7 linked regions of the Homo sapiens genome follow. The protein of the gene in region 1 interacts with the protein of each later gene in a biochemical or structural test. Each region holds a gene or a part of one and is shown in the gene's direction. Other genes may lie near its edges. The genes, in order: GLMN, CUL4B, BIRC3, OGT, FKBP4, CUL1 and RNF7.

The links.
Region 2: the proteins of GLMN (region 1) and CUL4B form a complex in vitro, tested with the Homo sapiens proteins (one study listed by BioGRID).
Region 3: the proteins of GLMN (region 1) and BIRC3 form a complex in vitro, tested with the Homo sapiens proteins (one study listed by BioGRID).
Region 4: the proteins of GLMN (region 1) and OGT form a complex in vitro, tested with the Homo sapiens proteins (one large-scale study listed by BioGRID).
Region 5: the proteins of GLMN (region 1) and FKBP4 form a complex in vitro, tested with the Homo sapiens proteins (2 studies listed by BioGRID).
Region 6: the proteins of GLMN (region 1) and CUL1 form a complex in vitro, tested with the Homo sapiens proteins (one study listed by BioGRID).
Region 7: the proteins of GLMN (region 1) and RNF7 form a complex in vitro, tested with the Homo sapiens proteins (one study listed by BioGRID).

Annotation. Positions count from the first base shown.
Region 1 is NC_000001.11:92,292,488-92,295,987, reverse strand, and holds part of GLMN (glomulin), read left to right. Parts: intron 1-3,500.
Region 2 is NC_000023.11:120,523,358-120,526,660, reverse strand, and holds the end of CUL4B (cullin-4B), read left to right. Parts: 3' UTR 1-2,803; downstream 2,804-3,303.
Region 3 is NC_000011.10:102,337,194-102,339,903, forward strand, and holds the end of BIRC3 (baculoviral IAP repeat-containing protein 3), read left to right. Parts: 3' UTR 1-2,210; downstream 2,211-2,710. UniProt on the Homo sapiens protein: Multi-functional protein which regulates not only caspases and apoptosis, but also modulates inflammatory signaling and immunity, mitogenic kinase signaling and cell proliferation, as well as cell invasion and metastasis.
Region 4 is NC_000023.11:71,536,104-71,539,603, forward strand, and holds part of OGT (UDP-N-acetylglucosamine--peptide N-acetylglucosaminyltransferase 110 kDa subunit), read left to right. Parts: intron 1-74; coding exon 75-255; intron 256-1,725; coding exon 1,726-1,969; intron 1,970-3,500. UniProt on the Homo sapiens protein: Catalyzes the transfer of a single N-acetylglucosamine from UDP-GlcNAc to a serine or threonine residue in cytoplasmic and nuclear proteins resulting in their modification with a beta-linked N-acetylglucosamine (O-GlcNAc).
Region 5 is NC_000012.12:2,801,470-2,804,969, forward strand, and holds part of FKBP4 (peptidyl-prolyl cis-trans isomerase FKBP4), read left to right. Parts: intron 1-1,681; coding exon 1,682-1,789; 3' UTR 1,790-3,500. UniProt on the Homo sapiens protein: Immunophilin protein with PPIase and co-chaperone activities. Component of steroid receptors heterocomplexes through interaction with heat-shock protein 90 (HSP90).
Region 6 is NC_000007.14:148,754,403-148,757,902, forward strand, and holds part of CUL1 (cullin-1), read left to right. Parts: intron 1-2,580; coding exon 2,581-2,748; intron 2,749-3,500. UniProt on the Homo sapiens protein: Core component of multiple cullin-RING-based SCF (SKP1-CUL1-F-box protein) E3 ubiquitin-protein ligase complexes, which mediate the ubiquitination of proteins involved in cell cycle progression, signal transduction and transcription.
Region 7 is NC_000003.12:141,741,298-141,744,678, forward strand, and holds part of RNF7 (RING-box protein 2), read left to right. Parts: intron 1-1,346; exon of another isoform or gene 1,347-1,610; intron 1,611-2,211; coding exon 2,212-2,259; exon of another isoform or gene 2,260-2,260; intron 2,261-3,381. UniProt on the Homo sapiens protein: Catalytic component of multiple cullin-5-RING E3 ubiquitin-protein ligase complexes (ECS complexes), which mediate the ubiquitination and subsequent proteasomal degradation of target proteins.

The DNA of each region.
Region 1 (3,500 bases):
TATAATAAATCTTATGTTTTTTAAACTCTTCTTGATTTTTTTCTAATTGCGTTCTCAGGATAACCTTCTAAAGTACTTAGCTTTCAGCTAATAATAAAAAAATTAATAACAACTAATATTTATTGCATGTTTACATGTACCAGATGCTGTCTTTAGTCCTTTACATTTATTAACTTAATTAGTCTCTCCAAAATCTCAGAAGGTAGGTGTTCATTTTGTAACTGAAAAGTTAAATGACTTGCCCAAAAGTAAGTCAGCTTTTATGTAACATCCAAGATTCAGACCTGTGTAGCATGGTTTTGGAGCTCCTAACCACTCTGCTCTACCTCTGGTTAGTGCTGTATGGCGTATGGTTTTAGGGTAGAATACAGGGGATTGCTTGATTGAGAGGGAGAGGCATCAAAAATGACTGGGTTTCTAGCCTCTAAAAGGATAACATATGATATCAAACAGAAAAAGGCAACCTAAGTAGAGGGAAAAGTTTTCTGAAGGAACAAGTGAGTTGACTTTTAGAAATTTTGAGTTTAAGTACAGCAGTCAATTGGAAAATAAGGTTTTGAGCTCAGTAGAGATAGAGGAATTAAGATGTAGATCTCTGAGACACATATCTGTGAGACTTTAATTACCTAAAGATTGGGTAATTGAAGCATTGAGGAGTGAAAAAAAAAAACAAGAATTTACCTGAGTTCACATAAAAGGGGCAGAAGAGAAGAGGCCCAAGATCCCATCTTGAAGAATTTAAGAAACAGGTAGAGAGAAGAGGCCTGCCAAGGAGATGAGGATCAGCACCACATCAGTGAGGCAGAAGGAAAAGGGAAGTATAAACAAAGTATTTTTCAGGCATTGCATGCCTTAGCGTTTTATTTTTAGCATGCTTCTGAATAGCTAATGGGATAGATTTAAACATGTGAGGCTTAGTCTTAATAGTTTGAGAATCACCTTTGCAATATGTGGTCAGCTAAATGCAAAGGTTTAGATATTGATAAGACAATGTTCAAAACTGACTACAGGCTGGGCACAGTGGTTCATGCCTATAATCCCAGCACTTTGGGAGGCCGAGGCGGGTGGATCACCTAAGGTCAGGAGTTCGAGACCAGCCTGGCCAACATGGTGAAACCCTGTCTCCACTAAAAATGCAAAAATTAGCTGGGCGTGATGGTGCGCCCCTGTAATCCCAGCTACTCGGGAGACTGAGATGGGGGGATTGCTTGAACCCAGGAGGTGGAGGCTGCAGTGAGCCAAGATCGTACCACTGCACTCCAGCCTGGGAAACAGTGAGACCCCATCTCAACAACAACAACAACAAAAAACTGACTACAATTTAATTTTCTTGCCAGGTGACACTATCAAAATTGACCAAGATTTACTATTATCTTCACCTATAAGACTGAATTAAAGAAAAAAAATAAAAATAAAAAGATTTACTATTTACTGCTTTGTGAGAGACCATTCACATACTATTTATTACAGTATATTATAATTGTTGTAGTTATTGTTAATCTCATAAATTAAACTTTGTCACAGATATGCATGTATAGTATTTATATATAGTGTTTGGTACTATTCATGGTTTCAGGCATCCACTGGGGGTCCTGGAATGTACCCCCTGCAGATAAGTGGGGAGACTACTGTATCGTATACTCTATTTTTATTATCTTACAAGACTGGGGTCAAGATGAGGTATTATAGGTGTCATTTTGTCTTCTTCCTAGATCAGATTTTTTTTAAAAAAATTCTAATTTTTGTGGGTACATAGAAGGCATATATATTGATGGGTACATGAGATGTTTTGATATAGACATGCAATGTGTAATAAGAATATCATAGAGAATGGGGTATCCATCCCCTCAAGCATTTATCCTCTGTGTTACAAACAAACCAATTATACTCATTTACTTTAAAATGTACAATTAGTTATTGACTATAGTCACCCTGTTGTGCTATCAAATAGTAGGTCTTATTCATTACTTATAACTTTTTTTTTTTTTTTTGGTACCCATTAGCCATCTTCCCTGCCTCCCACTACCATTTTCAGCCTCTGGTAACCATCCTCCTACTCTCTACGTCCGTGAGTTCAGTTGTTTTGGTTTTCAGATCCCACAAAAAAGTGAGAACGTTCAATGTTTTTCTGTGCCTGACTTCTTTCACTTAACATAATGGTCTACAGTCCCATCCATGTTATTGCAAATGACAGGATGTCATTCATTTTTGTGGCCAAATAGTACTCCATTGTGTATGTGTACCACATTTTCTTTATCCATTCATCTGTTGATGGACACTTAGGTTGCTTCCATATCTGAGATATTGTAAATAGTGCTGCAATGAACATGGGAGTGCAAATATCTCTTCAATATAGTGATATCCTTTCTTTTGGGTATATACCCAGCAGTGGGATTGCTGGATCATATGGTAGCTCTATTTTTGTATTTTTTGAGGAACTGCCAAACTGTTCTCATTAATGGTTGTAGTAATTTACATTCCTACCAACAATATCTAAAAAAAAAAATACAAAAAATTAGCCGGGAGTGGTGGCGGGCACCTGTAGCCCCAGCTACTTGGGAGGCTGAGACAGGAGAATGACGTGAACCCAGGAGGTGGAGCTTGCAGTGAGCTGAGATCGCGACAATACATGTCGCGACAATATATGAGGGTTTCCTTTTCTCCACATCCTTGCCAGCATTTGTTATTGACTGTCTTTTGTATATAAGCCATTTTAACTGGGGTGAGATGATATCCCATTGTAGTTTTGATTTGCATTTCTCTGATGATAATGATGCGTACCTTTTCATATGCTTGTTTGCCATTTGTATGCCTTTTGGGAAATGTCTATTCAAATCTTTTGCCAATTTTTTAATCGGATTATTAGATTTTTTCCTTTAGTGTTGTTTGAGCTTCTTTTCTATTCTGGTTATTAATCTCTTGTCAGATGGGTTAGATCTGCTTTTTCATTATTTATATATTTTTTTGAGATAGGGTCTGTCTCTGTCACCCAGGCTGGTTTGCAGTGGTGTGATCACAACTCACTGCTACCTCGCCTCCCAGGCTCAAGCCATCCTCCCACTCATCCTCCCAAGTAGCTGGGGCTACAAGCGTGTGCCACCAGACCCAGCTAATTTTTGTATTTTATACACAGGGTTTGGCCGTGTTGCCCAGGCTGGTCTTGAACTCCTGAGCTCAAGTGATCCACCCACCTCAGCCTCCCAAAGTGTTGGGATTACAGGCATGAGCCACCATGCTTAAAAAAAAAAAAAAAAAGAAAAGAAAAGACGGGGTGCGGTGGCTCACGCCTGTAATCCCAGCACTTTGGGAGGCTGAGGTGGGCGGATCACGAGGTCAGGAGATCGAGACCATCCTGGCTAACATGGTGAAACCCCATCTCTACTAAAAAAAAAAAAAAAAAAGGCAAAAAATTAGCCAGGCATGGTGGCGGGTGCCTGTAGCCCCAGCTACTTGGGGGGCTGAGACAGGAGAATGACATGAACCCAGGAAGCAGAGCTTGC
Region 2 (3,303 bases), on another chromosome or scaffold:
AAATGAAGCAGTGTAATTAATGGAAATAGTTGAGTGGACTTTTTCTCAGTGGTTAACATGCCCATTTTAAAGAGTAATACTTACCTTTAAGAAGAATGTTGTTGAACTCTTTGCATGTTATTTAGTATGATGTGCAGAAAACACTTAAGAACGTACCTGGTCTTCATGAATTCCTCTTTGGAACTGGGAAAGAGATCCCTGTGGCTATTAAAAAGGGGGGAGGGTTCTTACACACCATTAATTATGAAGCAAAAGGTTTATTTGCTTAAAATGTCATTTAAAGATACTTAAACTGCATGCAAACTTTATTTACTGTACAGAGTTCTGGATGTATTTATCAAATAGAAAAACCACCCTTGACTTGGTTGTTCACCCGTTTTGTGATTTCCCTTGAAAAGAGAAATGAATTGTCATAGCTATTGATATTTTACTAGGTGATGTTCTGTTACACTGAAAGGGATGTTTTTTAAAAAAAATTATTTGGAAACAAGTTTTCAAGTAGGGGGACAGTTGCTTACATAATATCTTGTATATTCACATCCTAAAAATTTTCATTTATGAGTATGGGATGTGTGTATATGGCTTAGCCCCAAGTTAACTGTGCTGATTAACAAGTACTTATAAAAATAGCTAAAGTAGAAAATTAATGATCAGTTGTACTAGAGGAACATCATAGAAGAGAAAAATCCAACTCTTTATATTAAAAATGAATACAATAAGAAAATTGCAAAAGAGACCAAAATGAACGTGTTTTGTAAATTGTTACAGGAGCAAAAACTTTGCAACTAGTTTTCAACATACTTTAGACTTTAAATGTTGTTTGGACAGTTTTGTCTTCAACTTGGACCAATTGTAGATTGTTACAGGCTTCCTAGGATTTAGCATTCCTATTTTCTCTACCAAAGTTTTTTTTAGAAGCATCCCAACTCTTCTCTTTGTTGATAAATAAGCCTTTCCTGTCATCTTCATTTTAACTTGCTAAAACCCTAGATACAAAGGTCCTCCCTCATTTTTCCCACAGAGCCCCTGTTTGGGAATTTGAGATTCTGTGTCATGCTGGTTTTCCTTTCAGAATTGCTTGAAATCGAGTTCTCTTAGCCACTGGACACCTAGTTTTCAGGAGAATGTCCCAAGATTGTTTATATATACAAAATGGCAAAAGTACTGTTTTTCGAATTGATAATTCAAGCAAAGGCTTCTCTTTACTGTCACTGATTTTTTTTTGTTTTTATTTTGTTTCCTTGTTTCTATTTCCTTGAAGCTTTGAAGGGAGGAGAAGCAGAAAATTTTGTTTATGTTTGTTAAAAATCAGAACTACTTAATGCTTTTTGCCACAGCATATTTCCTTGCCTGTTGGAGCCGTTAGGAAGATTACCTATGTCCTAATCTTCAACCTGAGAAGATTTTTGACTCTTGTGTCTACTGTTGATTGTTTGCTTGAGTTCTCAAAGACCTGTGGCCAGGTATTTTAAAAAGTCGTCTATTTCTTTCTAGTTGCATCAACTTGCACACTGGTGTCTAACTATATGTGGTATTCGGAACTTGTAATTCTTATTGAGCAGCCATTGCCTATATTTTCTCAGCTCCTCACTGATTTCTTTATATGAGCTCAGCTGACAAGCAAATGCAGCTATTTTGTTTACCCTCTCTTCATACCGGACCATCAACAACAGTGTTCTAACTCATCCCTGATGGTCTGTGAGATGTAGACTATTACACAAGATTCAAGTTACTCGTAAGCAACTTTTAGATAGAGTTGGTCCTGTTAGGAGGAGACTCTTGATGTCACCTTCAGTATCTTGAAAGCGGGTCCCCTCCCCGAGGCTCTTAATTCTTTGAAAACTTGATGCTGTTTCAGCTGAAAAATTAGCAAGACTGTTAAAAAAAAAAAGTTGAGGGGAGCTGTTTAAGAAACTGAAAAGTAATTGCAAACTACATTGGATAATTGTGACTTTCAGTTGTTGTTCTGTATCAGTTGAATTTTTGTGCTCTTTTCCCTGTGTACGTGGTGGTTCTATTTTTCTCCAATAAAACTTTTATTTAAAAAAAGTTTCTAGAGAAGATCTTTAAAATTCAAGTATTGTAAGAAAGTTATAAAATCACAGGACTTAAAATCTTCCTAACAACTTCTAATGAACTCACATTTGTTGATTTTGTTATTTTTAAACTTTTTAAAAATTTTGTAATGGTTTTGTGGTAATGCTATAAGAGTATGGGGGAGGGCATGGTTAACAGGGTGAGGAAAATTCCCAGGAATCCTCAAGGTGGATAATTATTCTTAAACATGCGGATACAAGTATAAACATTGCTTCATTCAAATCCTCAGTGTCAAATTGTTTCATAAAGTCAATATGAAATGAGTCTAGATTTGAGTTCAGGGGAGAAGAAAAGATTACTCTTAGTTATGGCATTTGCTCTGCCTTTTCTGTTAATAGTTTTTTGAGTTCTGGGCCAGATACTCTCAGAGTAAGATGTTCCTCAAAGTTTTTGAACCCAGTTCCTGAGTCTGCTTGAATGGTCTTAATATGATGTCTAGCCATACTCTTGAAATTTTTGCTGTGTATGTGAGTGTACAGTTCAGAAAACCAGTTTATCTGGGCATCTGGATCTAAAGATTTGAGAAGTTTGTTTTTTAATCTGGATATTCATAAATCTTTTAAAATGAGCTGGTCTTTGTTTTCATGACCACTCTGTTTAATGCTGTGAATGGCAGGAGTGTTGTGAGCGTGTTCTATTCTCTTATTTACATAAAATTGCCAAAACAAATTGTTCATTAAAAAGAAAAGAGCAGTACTGATGAAAATTTGCATAATTATGCTTTGTAAAATGATATCTTGCTAATGCTTCATTAATGAATATTTTTCAGTGTCCTACAAAAAAACACCTGCTTTACATTTGAATACTGAAGTTTGTTCACCTGCAAACACTTGGTTGAAATCAAACACTTTGCTCAATTATTTTCCTTTTTCCCCTTGCTATTATAAAAAAGGGTATTTCTTCTTTTGAATGGACACATAATGTACCTTTATGTTTAACAATCCTTAGAAGTCATCTCTAGCATAGTGAAAAAGACTCTGACCTTTCTTTTGTAAAACCGTTTCTATTGGATGTAAAATATAAGAATGTGCTGCACTGGCATGTTAGAACTTAATAGTTTTGCCAGCTATAACAACAACAGATCCTCTTCATTTGTTCTCTAATTTCAAAACTTTTCTTTAATTTTTAAATTTTTTATTGTGGTAAAGTACACACAAAATTTACCATTCTAACCATGATAAAGTATACAATTCTGACATTTAGTAC
Region 3 (2,710 bases), on another chromosome or scaffold:
TTTATTTATTTACAACTCAAAAAACATTGTTTTGTGTAACATATTTATATATGTATCTAAACCATATGAACATATATTTTTTAGAAACTAAGAGAATGATAGGCTTTTGTTCTTATGAACGAAAAAGAGGTAGCACTACAAACACAATATTCAATCAAAATTTCAGCATTATTGAAATTGTAAGTGAAGTAAAACTTAAGATATTTGAGTTAACCTTTAAGAATTTTAAATATTTTGGCATTGTACTAATACCGGGAACATGAAGCCAGGTGTGGTGGTATGTGCCTGTAGTCCCAGGCTGAGGCAAGAGAATTACTTGAGCCCAGGAGTTTGAATCCATCCTGGGCAGCATACTGAGACCCTGCCTTTAAAAACAAACAGAACAAAAACAAAACACCAGGGACACATTTCTCTGTCTTTTTTGATCAGTGTCCTATACATCGAAGGTGTGCATATATGTTGAATGACATTTTAGGGACATGGTGTTTTTATAAAGAATTCTGTGAGAAAAAATTTAATAAAGCAACAAAAATTACTCTTATTCTTCATTGCTTTATTTCAATGACATTGGATAGTTTAGTCACTCCCAGACTCTTTCCATACCTTCTTAAAGCCTCTCAAATATTGAACTACAGTTTATACTCCTTCCCATAAGATGCTTCTTCATTGACACTTGTAGAACACGGGGTCAACACATCATAAAATCTATTATGGAATGCCTGAGACAAGAATCAAACAGTCCCTTTAGTAAGTTTGTTTATTCACTTCTCTATTGATTCATTCAAGAAGTCTCATGCCAGCCCCACCTATTGGAAGAAGGTCTGAGTTTTATTCTTATCTCTTTGGTATTAATTCTGAAACTTAGAAAGTACACTGGTTAGCAATGCTTGGGACCAACAGGTTGTTCTGGTAAATAAATCTGTTTCATATTGTCAGTGCAACAAAATGTCCCCCTCTGCATTATGTTATTGGTACTCAACACGTCCGAGTCATAACTCTGTCCTTTGCTTCTTATAGAGGTATTAGGTCTTCAAGAGCAGAAGTAAGACTGTAATAGGGAATACTCAGGGGAAGGCAGGCAAAGGCTAGTCATCTAAACCAGTTCTAGATGTCTGTATAGGGGCAGATGGCTCTGTAAGGGCAGAAGGGAAAGACCCCTTCATAAGGGTCACAGCTGACAATCCTATAACAAAAGACAGGTTAACAAGAGAAAAACTTAACAAATTTATTTAATCACAGATTTACATCACCGGGGAGCCTTCGTAATGAAGATCCAAAATTACAGGGGAAACTGTGCATTTTTATGCTTAGGTTTGATAATGAATGGACAGCCCTGAAGAATAGTGATTGGAAAAAAAGGATATGATCTAATGGGAATAGACACAGGTTGGGGACCCAGCAAGGCCTGTCTGTTCAGATTATTCTTGGTCTCTGTGCAGCATTCCTTCCTCCTGGATATAGGGCAGGGCCTGTATGGGATGGGGATATTATAACCTGCTATCAAGCAAGGTAGGTCAGAGAATTTATTTATGGCCAGCTCTTACATAGTTAGGTGAGGAAAGATTAGAGTACTATCTTTAAGATGTAAGTCTGGCATTGTGGAAAGATGGTTCCAGTTTCTATGACCTACCTTGGGGAAGAGGAATTCAAGTTTCTGTGGCTTGCCTTCAGGGAGAATGAGGCTGAGACAGGAGGGCAGGATAACATCAGAGAAAAACTTTGCTTCTGAGGCCTTCACTTTGGGTTTTCTGAGCCCCAACATCTGCTAGTGTTGTAAAGAGAACAATTAGGGACCAAGTGAGGGGAGGAAAGAATCCATCTCTGCATTCTGATGCTGGGAGACTTATTTCCTTGAAATGCAATTGATTTTGCCTCTGCTAAGAGGCTCTGCTGGCTACCCATGTACTAGCCAGTGTCCTGCATGGGTGCTAGGCTGAATTATTTGTAATTGTGCTTAGGTGATTTGTAACTCAGGTATAGGGTATTTAAATAGTAGGCACCCTTTTTGCACCATGTGTTTTTTTTTTTATCTAGTTCTTGTATACTACAGATAATATTTGAACTTTGTCATCTCACTGTAAAACTTTTGTTCATTTCTCATTATGGTAATAAATAGCTATTATAACCAACCCATTTATTCAAATATGTTATTTCCCTAAGTGTTATTTTGACATTTTGTTTTGGAAAAAATAAATCACCATAGATAATAATGGTAGATCTATTTGCTGACCAAATGTCAGATGTTTTCAGGTGCTTGACATGCATTAATCCATTTGATTGCCTCCAACCCCACCTACCAGCCAACGTGGTCTTCAGTCATTGGGTTTAAACCTCAATATATTAAGTGTGATCATACAGGACTTTGCAGCAGGCTTAATTTCATACTTCAGCCATGCTCATTATAGCTTCCATTCCAACCTTTCTCTTAATTTCCTTATATCGCTTGATACCATTAGCCATTAAGTTCCTTTGTGGTCACAGGCAATGTGATTGAACCATATTCAGCTCCTATTGGAGAAGATGTCACCTCCTTTTGTTGTCTTGCACATCATAGTAGACACTATGTATGTTACTAAGAAAATTCAAGACCAGATGCAGTGGTTCACACCTGTAATCCCAGAACTTTAGGAGGCCAAGGCAGGTGGATCGTTTGAGTCTAGGAGCTCAAGACCAGTCTGGGCAACATAGTAAGACCATGTCTTAATAAATA
Region 4 (3,500 bases), on another chromosome or scaffold:
ACATTTTTTTGGTTTACATTTCTAACTTTTTGTTTTCCCCCCTCCTTCCCTCAAATGTTTTGATGATTCTCCAGAACCAACGAAACGTATGCTTTCCTTCCAAGGGTTAGCTGAGTTGGCACATCGAGAATATCAGGCAGGAGATTTTGAGGCAGCTGAGAGACACTGCATGCAGCTCTGGAGACAAGAGCCAGACAATACTGGTGTGCTTTTATTACTTTCATCTATACACTTCCAGTGTCGAAGGCTGGACAGGTAGGAGATGTTGGGGTACCTGCTCGTGATTGCTGCCTCTGGGTGCTGAGCTTGAAAAATGATACTTAAATATTTGAACTTGAAATTTTTCCAGTACCGGGTTTCAACTGAGCCGCCAACGCACATCTGCTCTCTTGCCCACTTGTGACATGCCCAGCTGCCAGTTTTTCTCCTTCCTTTTGTGGTGGTGGTTATATTATCAGTATGACTAGGGACCTTTTCTAGATTTTTCTATCTGGGTCTGCTGCTTTCTAGACTCTGTTCAGGTAATAAATTATTATCAATGTATATCTGAGCATCCAGTCTCCCTTTCATGAGACCTGTCAGTTTGAGGGACTGAAATGCTCAGAAATGATGGTTATGTATGCTGTGGCAGGAGATGCATACCTGGAGTTTCATTAAGTTGTTATGGTGTGTTGCTTTTAGTTAATCAGTTGAATTAATCAAAAGGGAAGAATTTGTGTTCCTGTCCTTTTAATAATTGTTATTCTGGCATATTTAGACACTTAAAGATGTGCATCATTAAATCTTAAATGGAAAATGAGACTCGTGCACATAGCTTTCCATTTTTTATCTTAATGATCATGATTTCCAATGTGGTGGGTTTTTTTTTTTTTTTTTTTTTTTGAGACGGAGTTTCGCTCTTGTTGCCTAGGCTGGAGTGCAGCGGCGCCATCTCGGCTCACTGCAACTCTGCCTCCTGGGTTCAAGCGATTCTTCTGCCTCAGCCTCCTGAGTAGCTGGGATTACAGGCATGTGCCACCACGCCCAGCTAATTTTTGTATTTTTAGTAGAAACGGGGTTTCTCCATGTTGGTCAGGCTGGTCTCAAACTCCCGACCTCAGGTGATCTGCTCGCATTGGCTTCCCAAAGTGCTGGGATTACAGACATCAGCCACCGCGCCCGGCCAATGTGGTAGTTTTGTAACAAGACTCTAGTTAGAATTTTTTTCTTTTTTTTGAGGTGGAGTTTTGCTCTTGTCACCCAGGCTGGAGTGCAGTGGCGCAATCTCAGCTCACTGCAACCTCCGCCTCCCGGGTTCAAGCGATTCTCCTGCCTCAGCCTCCTGAGTAGTTGAGATTACAGGCGCCTGCCATCATGCGTGGCTAAATTTTTGTATTTTTAGTGGAGACGGGGTTTCACCATATTGGCCAGGCTGGTCTCGAACACCTGACCTCAGGTGATCCTCCCGCCTCAGCCTCCCAAAGTGCTGGGATTACAGGCGTGAGCCACTGCGCCCAGCCAATAATTTTATTTAATAAGAAAAAGCTTTTCATTTTGAAATCTAGAATACCTCCACTTTTGAAAATCTTTGATTTCCCAAATTTTTCTTGCTATGCACTAGTTAAAAGATAAGGTATTATATAATGAGCAATAGCACAGATCTCAAACTGTTTGAGTTGCATATGGGCCATACCTTCTTTTCTGTAACGTGCATACCCATGCATTAACACTTGTCGCCTTTTCCAGATCTGCTCACTTTAGCACTCTGGCAATTAAACAGAACCCCCTTCTGGCAGAAGCTTATTCGAATTTGGGGAATGTGTACAAGGAAAGAGGGCAGTTGCAGGAGGCAATTGAGCATTATCGACATGCATTGCGTCTCAAACCTGATTTCATCGATGGTTATATTAACCTGGCAGCCGCCTTGGTAGCAGCGGGTGACATGGAAGGGGCAGTACAAGCTTACGTCTCTGCTCTTCAGTACAATCCTGTGAGTAAAATTTTAATGGTTACTTTCCCTTCCTAGAAACCCAGAAAGAAACATAGTGTGATATTTCAGACACTAAAGTAGGTTTTCACATGGAATAAAGTCAAAAGTTTAGAAATGCGTATGTACTTAAAATGGTGAAATTGCTTTTAGCTGGTCTGCGTTATGCTAAAATATTTGTTTTATTTAGCAAGTTATATTAAAAAGCATAAAAATTCTTATTGCAAGAAACTACATCAATTTTAAAATAACACGTATAAAGTACAGAGCACATGACTTTTTTCTGTTGTGATTAACTTTGGATAAATTCTGATAAGTGTTTGCAAGTTAATTGATTTTCAAGGAATGGTGGATAATGGGTCTTAATCTGTAAAATCTGTAATATAAAATAGTTTGAAACAAGATGCCACTATATGGAATGATGTGAAAATTAGGCTACAAAATTTCTTCCTCAATATCCTATTCTCTTCTCTTTCAATGTAATTAGAAGTCATAGAATTTAGATGATACTACTTATACTGGGCTTTTGATTAGTTTAAAAATTTTTTTTGTCTAAGTTGCAGATGTGTTCTGGGAACAAGTAAGGCTCAGCTGGCAGACCTTAAATTCATACTGTGTTTAGGATCTCCGAAAGATACAAAAACATAAGACTTTCCCTCAGAACTTATGATGTAGTTAGAGAAAGTAGATGTAAACTTAAGAGGTAAATGATAGTGGGGTTATAGAAATCTAGAAAAAGTTCCCAAGTTACATTGTCAACATTCAGTTTTGTAACCAACCTGGAAATGGCTAATAGTTTATTTTAGCTACCGTTTACTGAAAGTCTGTGTGGTCAGACACTCTACTGACAGCTTTAAATGATTGGTCTTAGTTAATCCTCACAATAATTCTTCAAAATAGATGATATTATTTCTGATTTTTATCAATTAAAAAAAAACCATGGACTCAGGGTTATGTGGCTTTCATGGGGACAAAGCTAGTAATGAAGTATTAATAGATATTAAAACCTGAGTCTGAATATCCTCAAAGCAAATGTTGAAGTGAAAAGAAATAAAAGTGGGATGATGTGCCCAGAGGGCACTCACCCATCAAAGCAGCCCTTGAGCACAGTTAAAAAACCATTGATCATATTTTGCTGTCCCTTATTTTTTGGTTAGGAAACTGAAACTAAATTTAGTAGTTTGTTCAAAGATCCGAAGTCACTTCTCATGATGATATCTATTAACAATTTTTGTAGTTAATTTTGAGAGTTTAAACGTGTCCTTTTTAGAAAATCCATTGCTTTAAAAAACATTTTTTTTTAAGAGATGGAGTCTTGCTATGTTGCCCAGGCTGTACTCATACTCCTGGGCTCAAGCAGTCCTCCTGCCTCAGCCTCCAGAGTAGCTGGGACTATAGGTGTGTGCCACCACACCCAGCTTCTAAATTTATTGGTTTTTGAATGGATACAGTGAATACCTCCAGTTAGCACTCTTGGAGGTAGCAAATGAAACTAATTTCTTGTCTATCTTTTCTGAGACACTCAGTGTATATA
Region 5 (3,500 bases), on another chromosome or scaffold:
TTTCCCTGGAGCATTAAGGAGCACGTGTTCCTGCTGTTGGGGCCAGTGTTCTGTGATCAGTGCGGGAAACCTACCCACAAGCCCCAGAAGTTGGGTTGGTTGCCCTGAGTGTAATTCCCGATTTATGTTTTCTTGTGGGCCAGGCGCCGTGGCTCACACCTGCAATCCCAGCACTTTGCAGAGCCAAAGTGGGAGGATCACTTGAACCCAGTAGGTAGAGACCTCAGTGACTTAGGATGGCACCACTGCACCCCAGCCTGAGTGACAAAATGAAACCCCATCTCAAAAAAAGAAAAGCGAGATGCTTTTTGTGTGTGATTAAATAAATAATACACTTAGTTAAATTCAAACTGTACCAAAGTATACAGTCAAGTCTGCCTCCCCCACCAGAAGCAGCTGCCCCTTCAGGGTCTTGGATGGTCCAGTGTATTGCGTCAAGGCACAGGCAGACGTTCCTGTTGCTTCCTCCCTTTCCCCTAACACAGGCAACGTGCTCCACCTATGATTTGGCGCATACTATGCTTTTTTCACGTAATAGTAGCTGGAGGCTTATTTTACATCCGTATTTAAAGAACTTTTACATTCTTTCTTAGGCTTACATTGTATTCCATTGTATGGATATGGCTTGTCTTAGTCAATCAGTCCCTTTTTAGTCTTCCAGTGGTTTTATTTTTTTTCTTTTTCTGAGACAGAGTTTCGTTCTTGTTGCCCAGGCTGGAGTGCAATGGCATGATCTTGGCTCACTGCAAACTCCACCTCCTGGGTTCAAGCGATTCTCCTGCCTCGGCCTCCCGAGTAGCTGGGATTACAGGCGCCCGCCACCACACCCGGCTAATTTTTGTATTTTTAGTACAGACGAAGTTTCATCATGTTGACCAGGCTCTCGAACTCCTGACTTTAGTGATCTGCCCACCCCTGCCTCCCAAAGTGGTGGGATTACAGGTGTGAGCCACCACACCCAGCCAGTCTTAAACAGTGTTCTAAACCAGCACTGTCCAGTAGAAATACAGTATCAACCACATGTAATTCAAAATTTTCTGGTAACCATGTTAAAAAGGTGAAAAACAAATGGAATTAAATTTTAGTTGCATTTGTGTATTTTTCAAACCATCTTCAAAATCCAATGTATATTTTGCACTAAAAACACGAGTTTGAACTAGCCACTTACAGTAGTGGCTACCATACGGGACAGTGCTGCTTAGAACAGCATTGCAGTGAATAACCTCATGAGTTCATAATTTGTACATATACAAGTGTTCTGTTTTGTTTTGTTTGAGACAGTGTCTCTTGCCCTGCCGCCCAGGCTGGAGTGCAGTGGCACAGTCTCAGTTCACTGTAACCTCTGCCTCCAGGGCTCAAGTGATCCTCTTGTCTCAGCCTCCCGAGTAGCTGGGACTACAGGTGCATGCCACCACGCCCAGGTAATTTTTGTAATTTTTGTTGAGATGAGGTTTCACCATGTTGCCCAGGCTGATCTCAAACTTCTGGGCTCAAGCAATCTGACCACCTCAGCCTCCCAAAGTGCTGGGATTACAGGCATAAGCCACCAGGCTTGGCCTATACAGGTATAGCTTTAGGACAGATGTAGGAGAATGGGTGTATCTGTGTAATTCTGCTGGAAATTAAGTGTGTGTTTTTTCACTTGGGAAGTCAGCCCGTTTGCTGTTCATCTTCCTTGCAGGCCAAGGCAGAGGCTTCCTCAGGAGACCATCCCACTGACACAGAGATGAAGGAGGAGCAGAAGAGCAACACGGCAGGGAGCCAGTCTCAGGTGGAGACAGAAGCATAGCCCCTCTCCACCAGCCCTACTCCTGCGGCTGCCTGCCCCCCAGTCTCCCCACTCCACCCTGTTAGTTTTGTAAAAACTGAAGAATTTTGAGTGAATTAGACCTTTATTTTTCTATCTGGTTGGATGGTGGCTTTAGGGGAAGGGGGAAAGGTGTAGGCTGGGGGATTGAGGTGGGGAATCATTTTAGCTGGTGTCAGCCCCTCTTCCCTTCCTCCATTGCACATGAACATATGTCCATCCATATATATTCATCAGAATGTTAATTTATTTTGCTCCCTCTGTTAGGTCCATTTTCTAAGGGTAGAAGAGGCAAGTGGTAGGGATGAGGTCTGATAAGAACCCAGGGTGGAGAGGGAGACTCCTGGGCAGCCGTTTTCCTCATCCTTTCCCTCTCCCAGTCCATTTCCAAATGTGGCCTCCATGTGGGTGCTAGGGACATGGGAAAAACCACTGCTATGCCATTTCTTCTCTCTGTTCCCTTCCTCACCCCCGACGGTGTGGCTGATGATGTCTTCTGGTGTCATGGTGACCACCCCCTGTTCCCTGTTCTGGTATTTCCCCTGTCAGTTTCCCCTCTCGGCCAGGTTGTGTCCCAAAATCCCCTCAGCCTCTTCTCTGCACGTTGCTGAAGGTCCAGGCTTGCCTCAAGTTCCATGCTTGAGCAATAAAGTGGAAACAATAAAACCTGGGTGTCAGACAACCCTTTCTGTTCAGCCTTGGAGTGGTGGGTATGGGTGGGTACATAATGGGTAGTAGCACAATCAAGGGGTCACCCACTTAGTTCCAGTTGAGCTTAAATAAGTGAGCATCTCATGTAGATGCCATAGTTGGGCAGGAAGCAGCCCCACCATGCATGGCTTCCTGAGCACTGCACAGGCTGCCGCTGGGATTTGTGTCTATGGCTTCGCCCAAGGTTCCCAGCACTCCCTCCCTCCAGCAACCTGGCAGTTTTAGTGCCTCTGGTTTTCTTCCCTGACACTTAGGAAGACGAAAGTATAAAGATCTAGAAGACTGGGACACCATGCATGTTCATTTTGAAGTTGGAATTGGTCTTCTGCCTACCTCTGATCTGGCAGAGGTATCTGCATTTTGGTTTGTTAACAAGGTAAAACTCCTGGTGTCACTGACCTCCTCCTGTCAGATAACTTACATGATTAAGGTTAAGAGTAAAGCAGAGTGTTCACGTCCAGCTTCCTTCTCAGCCTTAACAGGAAAAGGCTTGTGCTTTTTTTCTAACTATGCTTTGACCCTTAACTCCTATGGCATGATGGGGCCCTGGGAGAAGCCAGGCAGCACAAGCCAGTCATGCTGAGCTGCCTCCAGATAATCCTGGCTCCAGGCCAGAGCCCGTGTCTGCCCTCATCCCTCTCTCCTACTGTGAGCTCTCCAGTCCTTTCCCAACAGCGATGTGGTTGTCTGCTTAGCCACATGCCTGTATAGTTCCTTCCAGAAGAAATGTATAATGGTGGAAGATGTATTTCTGTGTGAAAATTTTCACCAAGTCATACAACACAGCTGATGCTGGAGCCAGGATTAAAATTGGGGTGTACAAGTCTCCCAGTGTGAGTATCCCTTGAGCCCAAGACACCAAGGATGCAGAGAACTGTGACTGTGCCACTGCACGCCAGCCTGGGCAAGAGAGTGAGACCATCTCTTTTTTAAAAAAGTCCCTGTGTAACTGCTTTCTTACTGGGCTTACCTCACATCACAG
Region 6 (3,500 bases), on another chromosome or scaffold:
GCTCAAGTGATCCTTCCACTTCGGCCTCCTGAGTAGCTGAGACTCTGCAAATGCTCACCACCGTGCCCAGCTCTTTCTGTTTTTTAAAATTAGAAAGCTTTGATAACCTTTTAGCATAATAGTGCTTTCGTTAAATTACCAACCATTTTGGATTTGGTTGTTAGAAATGATGAACTTTTTCATTTAAAGCAAATATGTATTCAAATTATCTGCATTTTACTGTGAACCCAATGTGGTGTTCCCTATCAAGGTGTAGAAATAATTGTAAGGTTATTCAGTCTTGGAAACCATGTTTTTCAAATGTGATCTTGCTCTTTACACATGGTTATGAAGTACTTTTTTTCTTTTCCTTTTTTTTTTTTAAGACAGGGTCTTGTTCTGTCACCCAGGCTGGAGTGCAGTAGTGCAATCATAGGTCATTGCAGCCTCCAACTCCTGGGATCAAACAATCCTCCCGCCTTAGCCTTCTGAGTAGCTAGGACTACTGGCATGTACCACCATACCCAGCTCCCAGCTAATTTTTAAATCTTTTGTAGAATCAGGGTCTCTTTATGTTGCCCAGGCTGGTCTCCAACTCCTGGGCTCAAGCAGTCCTCCACCTCCACCTCCCGAAGTGTTGGGATTACAGGTGTGAGCCACAGTGCCTGGCCATGACGTGTATTTCAAAACTGCTGTGAAATTGTGCTCGTGACTACGATGAGTTTCACTGTGAATATCCATTTCCTTCTAGCGTAGGTCCCTCCCACTCCAAGCCTTTGGTTGGGCAGTGTGGTGGAGTCTTTTCCCCTTCATCTCCCGCCTTTTCTTCCTTGGTCTTCATCCTTTGTAGCAAAGGCAGTGTGACTCCTTGTATCTAGCCACAAGATGAGCAAGTGGGTCCTTCATCTGGTTCTACACTGTCAAAGAGTGAAGACGTCTATACTGTGACCCCAGGGAAATTTGCAGGAACTCTTCTGTGTATATATTTTAAATATTTTTTATTTACACAATGTGCAAAAATTCTGCATGCTGCAAAATTGTTTTACCTAATTTATTTTTGCAAGCTAATTGAAAACTTTAAAACATCTTGCTAACAGACTGTATGTAGTTGGCTGGCCATAAGTTGTGACTAGTGTATTATTTTCATCTTCCCCAAATGGTGTTTCTAAGGTCTTGCTGAAGCCACTGTTCTTTTTATTCACAACACATCATAAAGTGAATGTTGTAATTAATTAATTATTCTTTAGTACTAAAGTAAGAAACAGTATATTGTGCTAAGTAAAAAGGTTGATGACCATGCCATCAGTGATATTTTTGCATTTTAAAAAGGTCAAGTACCATCATCCAAAATAGCTTAGCTTTACATTTTAAAGTTCATTTCATATTATTTAAATTTAAATGAACAAAAAATTATTTGTCTCAAGAGATGATCCGGTTTTTACATGGCTTGTTTGGTCACTCGTGTACCTTATACATGTGGAGCTTCCAGTCTGTTGTAGCCATTTAGTTTTCATTGAAGACACTGAGGCTCAGAGAAGCCAGTGGGCTCGCCCCAGCCCTTCCTGCAGCCCTCCTGCCCCCACCTTCCTCTTTCGTGCTTCTCTGCTGCACACACCTAAATGGCAGTGCTGCCATACAGTACCATTAACGTTTTTAAAGGGTAAGGTTTACTTTGTAGATGCCATTAATCCCTAAGAAAAAAAATTCCGGTTAGTCTCCTTCAAATAAAAATTTGTGACTCAAGTTGTGGAAATCTGGATAAAAATAATTTTCGTAAATGCACATTTTCTTGAAATATTGTTATACTATTGTACTTACCTTATTTTTACAGATCACCACAAAAAAGTGTTTTTATGGTTTTTAAGTAAATTTAAAGAAGGAAGAAGATGCATGTAAAAATTGAATAGTATTAGTCTCATTGTCTGAATTGCTAAGTAGGACATGTTGATTTCTTTTTTTTTTGGGAAGGGGTGCGGCGGAGTCTTGCTCTGTCGCCCAGGCTAGAGTGCAGTGGTGCGATCTTGGCTCACTGCAACCTCCGCCTCCTGGGTTCAAGCGAGTCCCCTGCCTCAGCCTCCCAAGTAGCTGGGACTACAGGCATGTGCCACCACGCCCCGGCTAATTTTTGTATTTTTAGTAGAGACAGGGTTTCACCATGTTGGCCAGGCTGGTCTTGAACTCCTGACCTCAAGTGATCTGCCCACCTCGGCCTCCCAAAGTGCTGAGATTAGAGGTGTGAGCCACTGTACCCAGCCAATTTTTTTTTAAACAAATATCAAAAATACAGATGATTTTGTGGTATATTTCTTAATAAAAAGGAATTACCCGCATATCAAATGTTCAGGGTACTTTTTTTGAGTGTGTTTGCATATTTAATACCATGAAAAATGTTCCAGTTTAATTTGAGATGAAAGAATTATTTTACTATATTCTTGTGAGTTTATATATATTAGCATGTTTTTGTATACAGAATAATTTAAAGAAGCCATCTAAAATCACATGTGTCAATGTATTTTAATACAGTAGATGTTATTCACCGTTATTTTTAATTTATAATGTGACAAATTAGTCATCTTAAAGCTTTAGTTAACTTGTTTTTAGGATGGAGAAGATTTGATGGATGAGAGTGTACTGAAATTCTACACTCAACAATGGGAAGATTATCGATTTTCAAGCAAAGTGCTGAATGGAATTTGTGCCTACCTCAATAGACATTGGGTTCGCCGTGAATGTGACGAAGGACGAAAAGGAATATATGAAATCTATTCGGTAAGAGTTTTGTTTTAAAACGTTTTAAATTTGTTTTTGTTTTTGTTTTTTTTAATGGCAAATTGTCTTTCAGCAAGAGAATCTAGGCAAATATTAAGCTTTTTTCAGAATAGTAAACTAATTTTCATTGTTTTATCAATAAATGTCACTTAAATATTTTTTAGCAAGAAAGTAGAAGAATGGGTAAATTGGAGTTCTAAAATACAATTTGCCCATTTCTGCATTTGCTTTTTAAAAATTTCTTCTTTAATTACCTGACCCTACCATCACAGTTTGCCTGGAACTGCCTGAGTTTTCGCACTGAAAGTCCTGAGTCCTGGTAGTCCCAGGCAAATCAGGTGCCATACCTGAGGGCGAGCCCTGAGGATTAGCCCTCCCATGCTTTAGAGTCTGGGAAACGCTGCTTCATGGAGAGGACCCTGAATTAATTAATTACTAAATCACCCTCAGTAATATACGTTTCTTCAGTCAATGAAAGGGGTTTTTTTGGTCCATTGGTTTTCAAAGTATGGTCCTGTATTAGTCTGTTTTCATACTGCTGATAAAGACCTACCTGAGACTGGGTAATTTATAAAGCAAAGGAAGTGTAATGGGCTCAACAGTTCCACGTGGCTGGGAAGGCCTCACAACCATGGCAGAAGGCACATCTTAGATGGCGGCAGGCAAGACAGAATGAGAGCCAAGCAAAAGCGGAAACCCCTTATAAAACCATCAGATCTCGTGAGACTATTCACTACTATGAGAACAGTATG
Region 7 (3,381 bases), on another chromosome or scaffold:
AGACCCAGCCTTGGTCATTTTGGTGTCCCCAGTGCATAACTCCTTGCACAGAGGAGATAGTAATTGTGGGATTGAAGAAAACCTCAGGAGGCAGTGGTTGTTTTTAATCCACACTGAAGAGACTAGGGCAGTGGTGTTTTTTTAAGGGTAAGAGCATGTGGAAAGGAGCAAACAAATGCCTGAGCAGAATCCAGTGTAAGAAGAGAAGCAGGCTTCAACTTAACCGTGTTTCTATTTTTACAGAATTATTTTTCTCCTATTTATGTTAAAAACTATTTTCTGTTGGTTCAAACTTCCTTTTACCCAACTCTGACTCCTCTTCCAGCTAGTGAATGAGTCCATTTTTGCTCCCTAAAATATTCTATATTACTTTTTTCATTAAGCTGATAGTATTCCAGATTGAATTTTGAAAACTTCTAGTACAGCCTTTAGGATCTCATTTTTAGTATTTACACCTACTCCACTATATTAGAAGTTACTATAAGCTCACTGGGCATGCTCATGGGCAGTTTATTTTCAAGGCACCCTTTTAAATAACCCATACATATAATGTTAGTATTTGTTTATATATACATCAAGAAATTCTAGAAGGATACCCAAGAAACCAGTAATAAAGTAATTTATTAAAAGACTTTACCATTGTTGGGTAAATACTTTGGGCTCAGACTTATCTGTATTTTCTTTCTTTCTTTTTTTTTTTAAAAAAACTTTTAGGTTCAGGGCTACAAGTACAGGGTTGTTACATAGATAAACTTGTGTCACAAGGGTTTGTTGCACAGATTATTTCATCACCCAGGTATTGAGCCTAGTACCCATTAGTTATTTTTCCTGATCCTCTCCACCTTCCACCCTCCAAAAGGCCCCAGTGTGTGTTGTTCCCTGCTATGTGGCCATGTGTTCTCATCATTTAGCTCTCAAGCATTTTCTTTTTTTTTTTTTTTTTTTTTGAGACGGAGTCTCGCTCTTTCGCCCAGGCTGGAGTGCAGTGGCGCTATCTCGGCTCACTGCAAGCTCTGCCTCCTGGGTTCACGCCATTCTCCTGCCTCAGCCTCCCGAGTAGCTGGGACTACAGGCGCCCACCACCACGCCCGGCTAATTTTTTGTATTTTTAGTAGAGACGGGGTTTCACCATGTTAGCCAGGATGGTCTCCATCTCCTGACCTCGTGATCCGCCCGCCTCAGCCTCCCAAAGTGCTGGGATTACAGGCGAGCATTTTCTTACAAAGAAAAAACCTTAGTGTTTAGGGATATCTAGTATTTACTTATTTTATCTGTAAAATTCTCACCAGTTTGTATCATCCCCACTTAATATATAAATACCTCACAGTATTGTCCCTTTTTTACAGATGAGGGAATTGGAGTTCGTAATTGGTCCGAGGCCCTGAACCTAATAAATGCCAGTGAAATGGGATTTGACTGTAGATCTGGCTCCACAGCCCTCGCTGTCCCCTCTGTCTCACTGGCTTCTCACCAGCCTTGTCTGGATGACCATCGGTAGCAACCTATTGGAAGCATACAAAGCAGTTTATTTTAGAGGAACTCTCAAGTGTCTTAGGGTAGAAAGTAAAAAGTTGCTTCTTATGAGTTGCTAAAGGAAGGCTTCTGTGTCAGTAAGTATGGATGACTTTAAAAAACTTGTTTATGAAGCAATTTTTTAATTTAATTTTTTATAAGTTATATATTCATATAGTTCAGAAATTGAGGAAGTTATGTATATTACCTGGAAGAGTGAAAACTCTCCTTCCCATTCCAAACCCTCCCAGTAAACTTTATTATTGGTTCCTTGGGTATCCTAGTGTTTCTTGATGTATGTATAAACAAATGCTAACATATATATATGGTTTATTTAAAGGGTGTCTTGAAAATAAACTGTCCATGAGCATGCCCAGTAAGCGTATGGTAACTTTGAATATAGTGGAGTATGGCATATTTTTCTCTAGTAGTTTTCTCTCTTGGCACCGTCAGGACATCTTTTCATCAGAGCTTATAAAAATAGAGGATTTGTTAACCCTTGTGAAATTGCTCCTGGTTATAATTAGTAGAATGCCTTGTACTTTATTCCTCTTTAAGTAGTTATGTTCAGATGAGAAATTAATAGTATGAGTCTTTATTGCCATCCCTAACCCTTAGGGCTTTTGACTTTGAAGTGTCTGGTTTTTAAAAATTGCATTCTGAGCATCAGAATGAGAATCGCTATTTGTTTACTTTTAGATGCCTGTCTTAGATGTCAAGCTGAAAACAAACAAGAGGACTGTGTTGGTATGTTGTAATTTTGTTCTCTTGCTTTTTCAACTGAAGGTTTTCTCTCAGTAGGGATGTTTGAATTTGAAATTAAGATTGACTTTATCAATACACAAAAATAAACTGTAAAGCAGTGATCCATTGTTAATATAAAATATGTTGGTTCTCAAAAGAGTTTAATGGAATGAACCTGCAAGTCCTTTTATTGCCATAATTAAGAAGAATTGGTTATATATTCCAGACATGGTCATAATAAACATTTTGGTAATCAAAAATTAAATATTTTCTATTAAGAAAATTATAAAATCAGAAATTTGTCAAAACATTATTTGAATTTTGGCTATGTTATAGGTCACTTTTGGTTCTAATAAGGCATTTCACTTTTCAATACTCTTATAATACAGTATTTAACTTTAAAACCAGAGTAGAAAAATTCTAAGTCTCAAGTATATTTTTGGAATGTGGTTTGTGTATCAAATTTTCTTTAGAGTCTTAGACTACAAAAGTTGTCGTAGGCTAAATATTTTAGGCAGTTCAAAGATTTTTATGCCCTAGTTCTTGAGGTGATCAAGTCTAGATTGCTATATAAACATGTTTATAGATTTTCTTAGAATAAAAGATTGGCTTTGTATTTTGTGTTTGCATGGTGTACGTAGAACACAAATACATGGTGTACATAGAACTTCTTAATATTGATTCTTGCAGTTTTGATCCAGTTCTTCCTCCTGAAACGCTTAGAATGTTTCACCCTTGCTTCCTACCCCCTGTAGCCAATTTTCATAGGCATTTTTTTCTTTTTTTCTGCCTTATTTCTTTCATTTAATCTTTTTCTCTGCCTTATTTCTTTCATTTAATCTTTTTCTCTTGTCATATAGCTCAGTTGATCAAGCAAGGGACAGATGAATCCCAAATTCGAGATTGCATTCTAGATTGTGGATGATTTCCCTTGTTTTAAAGTTTTTCTTTCATGCTGCTTGTTTAAAAAGTATTAATTTGGGAATTGTGAGGGGCAGGCCACTTTCTTTGATCACAGAGAGACCTCTCTCTCCAGCCAGCCACTTTGAAAATTTCATCGTCACATGAGGAATTGCACTGCTTATGGGTGACTTAACACAATTCATCACTTCTAGAAAACAGCTC